Homo sapiens: one gene and its partner. The protein of the gene in region 1 interacts with the protein of each later gene in a pairwise test. Each region holds a gene or a part of one and is shown on either strand. Other genes may lie near its edges. The genes, in order: THG1L and ELMOD1.

Evidence for each region.
Region 2: the proteins of THG1L (region 1) and ELMOD1 interact in a two-hybrid assay, tested with the Homo sapiens proteins (one large-scale study listed by BioGRID and IntAct).

What each region holds. Positions count from the first base shown.
Region 1 is NC_000005.10:157,734,096-157,737,919, forward strand, and holds part of THG1L (probable tRNA(His) guanylyltransferase), read left to right. Parts: intron 1-480; coding exon 481-650; intron 651-1,750; coding exon 1,751-1,839; intron 1,840-3,791; coding exon 3,792-3,824. UniProt on the Homo sapiens protein: Adds a GMP to the 5'-end of tRNA(His) after transcription and RNase P cleavage. This step is essential for proper recognition of the tRNA and for the fidelity of protein synthesis.
Region 2 is NC_000011.10:107,629,041-107,632,864, forward strand, and holds part of ELMOD1 (ELMO domain-containing protein 1), read left to right. Parts: intron 1-1,376; coding exon 1,377-1,522; intron 1,523-1,659; coding exon 1,660-1,688; intron 1,689-2,539; coding exon 2,540-2,637; intron 2,638-3,824. UniProt on the Homo sapiens protein: Acts as a GTPase-activating protein (GAP) toward guanine nucleotide exchange factors like ARL2, ARL3, ARF1 and ARF6, but not for GTPases outside the Arf family.

The DNA of each region.
Region 1 (3,824 bases):
ATACATAACTGGCCAGGTGTGATGACTCACGCCTGTAATCCCAGCACTTTGGGAGGCTGAGGCAGGCAGATGACTTGAGGTCAGAAGTTTGAGACTAGCCTGGCCAACATGGTGAAACCCCATCTCTACTGAAAATACAAAAATTAGCTGGGCGTAGTGGCCTGCACCTGTAATCCCAGCTACTCGGGAGTCTGAGGCAGGAGAATCACTTGAACCCAGGAGGCAGAAGTTGCAGTGAGCCAAGATGGTGCCATTGCACTCCAGCCCAGGCAACAGAGCAAGACTCTGTCCTAAAAAAAGAAAAAAAAATACAGAACCAAGGTATTAAAATAGTGTTTCTTAGCCAAATGCATTTTATCTCCTGGCTTTCTGGGCAGTTTGTGTACTCTCTGTGGTACCCACAGGTCTTATCATGGTGTTGAACTAATTCCGTGTATTTTTCTTTTTCTTACTCCACCCAATGTGCGTTACATTTTCAAGTAAGTTCATGACTCACGTGGCCTCCCAGTTTGCCTCCAGCTATGTGTTTTATTGGCGGGATTACTTTGAGGACCAGCCCCTTCTGTATCCCCCAGGCTTTGACGGAAGAGTCGTGGTGTATCCCAGCAACCAGACTTTAAAGGACTACCTCAGCTGGCGACAAGCAGATTGTGAGTGGCACCAAATAAACACATGTAGTTAAACCACCAATTCCATGTCTTACAGGTGTTGATCTGATACAGGATTGGCTCACATATACTTTGTTTCAACATATACGTTGTACAGAATGCAGTATTTAAATATTTTTTCAATTAGTTAAAAGTATTTGAAAAATTAAATTTTACGTAAAAACTCCTTATCTCTATTTTTTTTTTTTTTTAAGACAGAGTTTCGCTCTTGTTGCCCAGGCTGGAATGCAGTGGTGTCATCTTGGCTCACTGCAACCTCCACCTCCTGGGTTCATGGGATTCTTCTGCCTCAGCCTCCCGAGTAGCTGGGATTACAGGCATGTGCCACCACGCCCGGCTGATTCTGTATTTTTTAGTAGAAATGGGGTTTCTCCATGTTGGTCAGGCTGGTCTTGAACTCCTGACCTCAGGTGATCCACCCGCCTTGGCCTCCCAAAGTGCTGGGATTATAGGCGTGAGCCACCACGCCCAGCCGCCTTATCTCTATTTTTTAAAAAAATCAGATGTGGCAATACTGGATCTGCATTCTTACTTAGTACTAGACAAAGCCTGTTCAGTGGCAGCTACCTTTACACACACACACACACACAAATGCCAGTGTGCCATAGTCTCTGCCATTCCCTGTTGTTCCTCTGGGGTCACCCACTGCTTTACACATTTATGTTCATGCTGGCCTCAGTGGGTATTTGAATTGTGACCCTTGCCTTATGTGACTGTGATGATGTTTGTGAGGCTTTTACTTGCTTGTTCTAGTTTGAATTTTCCAGAAGAACTGGAAAAGAGATTGAAATAATATAAATCAAATAACTTCTAAAGTATTCCTAGGATTAACACACAAGTTAACAGATTTGTATAATGTGTAACTGAAATGACCAAATAAAACTGTTGTTAGGGATGAAGTTTTTTCCCTACTGCTCCTTCCCTCCATGTTCCGTGTGTAGGACTTCGGTCAAGTCACTGAATGTCTCTGAGATCTCTTTACTATGAAAGAGGAGAGGGTCAGGGCTCTAGTATTCCTTGAAGAATGAATATTCAATAAAGATTTTATGTATATAAACATTACTATTTTGTTCTCCTCACAGGTCACATCAATAATCTTTATAATACAGTTTTCTGGGCACTTATACAACAATCTGGACTAACACCAGTACAAGCCCAAGGGAGATTACAGGTATAAAGATCTTACTACATTAATACTTAACTGGGGACAGTTCGCTGTAGGCTCTCCCATAACTTTTTTTTTGTTAAATTTACATTTCTTTCTTTTAAGATCCCTGTACAGCTTTGTTTTGAAAGGATATAAAAATCATAATAGGAGCAGCTCTGCTGCCTGCTTGGTCTGTAATCCTGGATGAATTACTGCTTCTCCCTGAGCCTTTGTGTTCTTAGTGGAAAATGGAATTGACGGCACTGGCTCTGCATTCCCACGTGCTAACACTTGCCTGAAGCCGTGTATGACTGTGTATGACTGCCGTCTTCAGCACTGACTTTTTTTTTTTTTTTTGAGACACAGTTTCACTCTGTTGCCCAGGCTGCAGTACAGTGGTGTGATCTCAGCTGATTGCAACCTCCACCTCCTGTGCTCAAGCGATTCTCGTGCCTCAGCCTCCCAAGTAGCTGGGATTACAGGTGCATGCCACCACACCCAGCTAATTTTTGTATTTTTAGTAGAGACAGGGTTTCACCCCGTTGGCCAGGCTGGTCTTGAACTCCTGACCTGAAGTGATCTGCCTGCCTGGGCCTCCCAGAGTGCTGGGATTACAGGCGTGAGCCAGTGAGCCACCACACCTGGCCAGCACTGAATTTTTGTCAGTCCCACCACGCCTCTTCCCTCATTGCCATTTTCCCTGCTGGGCACCTGTAGTTTCTTGGGTTTATGACCTCTGTGTATAGGAAGAGTTCGTGCTGAGTTTGTTACTTTCATAAATGTCATAATAACTACTCACATCATGCTTCTGTGTAATTTTATCCTTTCTGCCTCAGTTCTTTATAGGTAAAATGTAGAAAATAGTAGTTTCTACCTCATAGGTTTATGGTGAGAATTAAATGGCATGATGCACGTAAAACACAGAATCGTATGAAGCACATTGTAAGTGCTTAATAAATACTGGTTTTTGTTATAACAGTGCTACTTGTAGGATGACTAACTGTGAAGTGAGGTAATGTGTTGTAACAGATCTTTTATTTGTATTTTATTTTATCTATTTATTTATTTTTTGAGATGGGTTCTTGCTATTTTCCCCAGGCTGGTCTTGAACTCCTGGGCTCCAGCAGTCCGCCCACCTCAGCCTCCCAAGTAGCTGGGATTACAGGTGCATGCCACTGTGCCCAGCTGTAACAGTTACTAATACAATGCCTGGTACATTATGTTTGCTCAATAAATGGTTGTCATTTTTAATAATAGTAATGATAGAGATTTTTATATAGCAATAATAGGAAAACTGGGGCCTGGTGTGGTGGTTCACGCATGTAATCCCAGCACTCTGAGGAGGCCAAGGTAGGTGGATCACCTGACGTCAGGAGTTCAAGACCAGCCTGGCCAACATGGTGAGACCGCTTCTCTACAAAAATTAGCTGGGTGTGCTGGCACACACCTGTAATCCCAGCGACTCAGGAGGCTGAGGCATGAGAATCGCTTGAACCTGGGAGGTGGCAGTTGCAGTGAGCTGAGATTGCACCACTGCACTCCAACCTGGGCAACAGAGTGAGACTTTGTCTAAAAAAAAAAAAGGCATACTGGTAGGTATATCCAGGTTTGGAAGAGTCAAGTTCAGATTTCAATTCTTCGTAGAAGAATAAGGACAACCTTTTAACCTTGGGGAATTTATATAACCTTTCTAAGTTTTACTGGACCAAATACATAATATGTATTCAGTTAGTATTAATTCTCCCCACTCCCTTTCAGTCTTGACTTGTGAAGCCAGTGTTTGGTATAGGAGAGAATTTTATCTAAGTAAGATCATAATTGCCCTTAAGATGAAAATTTACTAATAACTATAAGATGTTTGATAAAATCCTTCCACTTCTTGATTGTGGAAATTTAGGTTGTGGGTCGAATGGATAGTAGCACTAGGGGAGAAAGAAGACATGCAGAGCTTTTAATATCTATTTTTATTTTCTCAGGGAACTCTTGCAGCAGACAAGAATGAGATTTTG
Region 2 (3,824 bases), on another chromosome or scaffold:
CAAAGTATTCCATTATGTTATCTCAGTGCAGCAGCTTGGTTGTTTTGTATGGTTTCTTTCCATTTCCTTTGCATTTATAAGATATAAACTCCATGCCTTTGTGCAAATCAGACTGTTCGAGTTTTTATTTTTAACACAAGGCTGTTGAAGCTATTGGAACCAGAGCAATTTAAGGAAAGGAACACGGTCAAGGTTTTGATTCTTTTTCAGGGATGGATCACATTGTAGAGGCTACTAGTTAACTACTCCAGTATATCTGAGTGACCATGCATCACCTTATTTTAGAACTGGAAGGAATTAGTGAACTTTTGAGAATAAAGAAAAATCTTTTCCAGATGACAACAAAAGGAAGTAATATAAATAATTCTGCCTCCTGGGGATGTACAGTATAAAGAGAAAATAGGTTGACTATATAAGTTCCCGGATAATAAGTCCTCTTTACCACTAAAGCTTAAGTCATTTGAAATTCTGAACCGTACCATGAAATAGTAGGCACTCACATTTTTAAAATTAAAAGTCATCATAAAAGATGGACTTACATGGGCCACAGATGTGTGAATAAGCACATGACTGGTGACAATATAGTTCATCATTTGTTGCGGTATTGCTGGAGTGAGGTAGGGTGTACAGTAAAGAAAACTTTCTTTAGCAAGAGCCAAGAACAAACTTCTCAAGAGGAGTTTTTGAAACATTTAAATCACGGAAGGTCGTCACGTCTAGGAAAATCAAAGGTCAAGGGTGCTTGTTCAGTGAACTGATGAGAAGGGCTTCTGACAAGGCCAGGGAATGTTAGGATAGGTCAGCAGAAAAGGCAGGTGGCCACAACCAAGTCCTCAAGGAGGTCTGCAATGCCTAAGGGAAAGCAGAGGGAAAGAGGAAAGAATGGGAGCAAGGGAAGGAATCAAACAGTGGGATTGGTCGAGGGTGAGGAGGACACTAGGGAGGGGCTGAAAATGGACAAGGGCAAGCTGAGAGGCTGTTCATGGAGGCAAAAGAGGAGAGCATGTTCTTCCCCCACGTCAAAGGGAGGGCTGACTCCTAAAACACAAGCAGTATTAAAGGATTCTGTTTTCAAGGTACTCATTTACTTCCAAGATGGTTTTAGGCAAAGGAGGGAAAAGAAAAGATTCTAATGCTTCATCCTCAGTTTGTTGGAATATCAGATTTACTAGAATAGAAAATTCTGGAGTTTCTTACAGTCATAGTAAGTGTAGCTACTGCAAATAAAGTAGCATGGGACTAGAAACATATGTTAAGTATAAGGTGATTTTTCTAACCCCTGATTTTCTCCTGGGCTTCTTTTCTTGCTGGTGGTGGCTGCTTTCTCTTCTCTTCCAGAGTTCTATTGGAAGGGTGCTGTGTTTTGTTTTTCACAGAATGTTGATCCAGGTATGCCTGTATTTTTACTGTAAATTTCTGTGGCGCTGCCTGAAATTTGTAATGAGGAAGCTAACTGGAAGATGTGAACTACAACGGATCTGTTATAATACCAAGCCGGGAGCTTCTAGAACCATGAAAATCGGTAAGCCTGAGACAAAGAAGTAAGCAAAAGGTAGAGTTGGTATGATGGAAGATACGATGTTGTCTTTCAGTGTAGTAATTCTAAACCATGTGTAAAGGATAATCTTTGAATGACTGTTTTTGTTGCTGCTTTCACAGAAACATCACTGAGGGATTCTAAAAGTAAGGTAAGTAAAATTATTTTTCAGCAGCTTTTTTTTCACTTGGAAGCTTACCTTTATCATAAGAAGTAAAAATTCTAAGAAACCAAAATATACCACTGGCTAGGAAAACTACTGCCAACTGAGAAGAAATAATCATTTGCCCATTACAAACCACTGTACTATTTACATGAGAACAGCCACTGTATGTGAATTTCTAGGCAGTTTGTGAAGTACTTATTACTTCATTGTCAAATGAACCCTTTCTTATACCTCTTCCCAAATCATAAAATAAATATTCCTTGAACATAGTAACAGTATTAACTCCCTACTATTTCCTCAATATCCAAATCATTTTTAACATTATACTTAAGATTTTTCAATAACATCAAAGAAGCCACTATGCTAGCTTTTGTAGCATAGTGGAGCATCCATATAAGAAAGAAAACCTATTTTCTTTTTCAAGATTCTTGATAATTTTATCTTATTAATTTTGACATCCTGAAGACTATCTCCCTCATGTGCCTCACTCTTTAGTCATAAACATAATACCCCTTAACAATAGAAACTATGTTGGGCGAGGAAATGAAAATATTACATTTCAATATAGGTAGCTTGAAACAGGAAAATGGTAAGAACAAAACCAAAAAAATTGTATGTGTTTTCCTGATTAAAGTTATCAGGAAAATTGCACTACCCCCCCCCCCATCGTGAAAATGTCAAATTTATTAGAATTCAAGTACGCTAAATCAATTGTTGCTTTTAACTTAAGTCTTCATATAGAAGCTTAAGCAAATGTTTGAAGCCTCTATCCCAGTAGATACTGATTAAGCCTCTGGTGTTAATGAAAAGGAAAGTGATTAAAACATGTTTTCCAGCTGTTGCAGACTTCTGTGAGTGTTCACCCCGACGCTATTGAAAAAACTATAGAAGATATCATGGAACTGAAAAAAATTAATCCTGACGTAAATCCACAGTAAGAATATGTTTCTTATGTCAAAAATACAGAACACAAATCACATGGCCACAGGTTTAGTGTTTCTCTGTCTCCTCTCTTTTTTTTTCTCCCTCTCTCCCTAAAATAATCATCTGCCATGTTTTGACTTTCAGATGAGGAATAAAGAAAAAAAGTACCTTTTTCATGTTTGTAAATGGCAGCAACTTTGTACTTCCTTTGTGGCTTATGCTTCTCAGATGCAAAGAATGTAAGAAATGTGTTGAGTGCCCCGATAGAGAAAGATGAACCCATTCATCAACAATCACTCTATCTGATGCCTATGTTTTACGCTAACAGTAAATGTTCAAATTGTAAATGTGCTTAAGCTGATTCTGTTCCATCTAGAATAGTCCTTCACTTCCTTCATGAATATTACTTTATGACAGGCTGAGAATCTTGGAGACTGTTTCTACCTGCTTGTCAAGAAGACAGGCATGTGTGGGAAGGAGAAATGGTTTTTATATGAAGACTTTAGAACTTCATAATTTATTCCTCTCATCTTGGAAGTATTAAAATGCATTTGGCAATGTTCGTGACATTTAAAATTAGCTTTATATTTTCCACTGGGTACAGCAATTTTTCAGTAAAATTTTGCACTGAGGACACTGGGTAGAATAAATTCCAAATGCAGATATATTTAGAGAAGGTTTTAGGTTGGTAACAATCAAACTGTCTTTTAGATGTTCGTGTCTGAGAACTTTAGATGTTACCTTTGAGAAAGGCTTTTATTAATAATTACAGGAACTGTAGCTGAAGGGAATTTCAGAGCACACTTGCGTAGGTCTATCTCTTGGAAGGATTTTGGATACTAGCTATCTAGGGGCTCATCACAAAACCTCCATTTTTGCCTGGTCTCTATAGCGTTCTTTAGCAGCCGCTTCAGTTCATTAGCTGCCTTTTGCCTATTCAGCTACCAAAGGTTGATTTACTTATATAGTAAAGGTCTTTTTGAAACCTTCTAACATATATTTTATTCCTCTGGGAAGGTGATAAGAAGGCAGTTCATTATAAATAAGATTGAACGAAAAATTTAAGACTACAACTGGCAAGAGGGATATATGAGTCCTGTAATCATGTTTAGAGACTGGATTAGATTTAATAGCAAATCTTTTCTATGAAAGTTATATAAGGTGCATTCAAGAGCATTTCTTTGCCATCCATTCTCT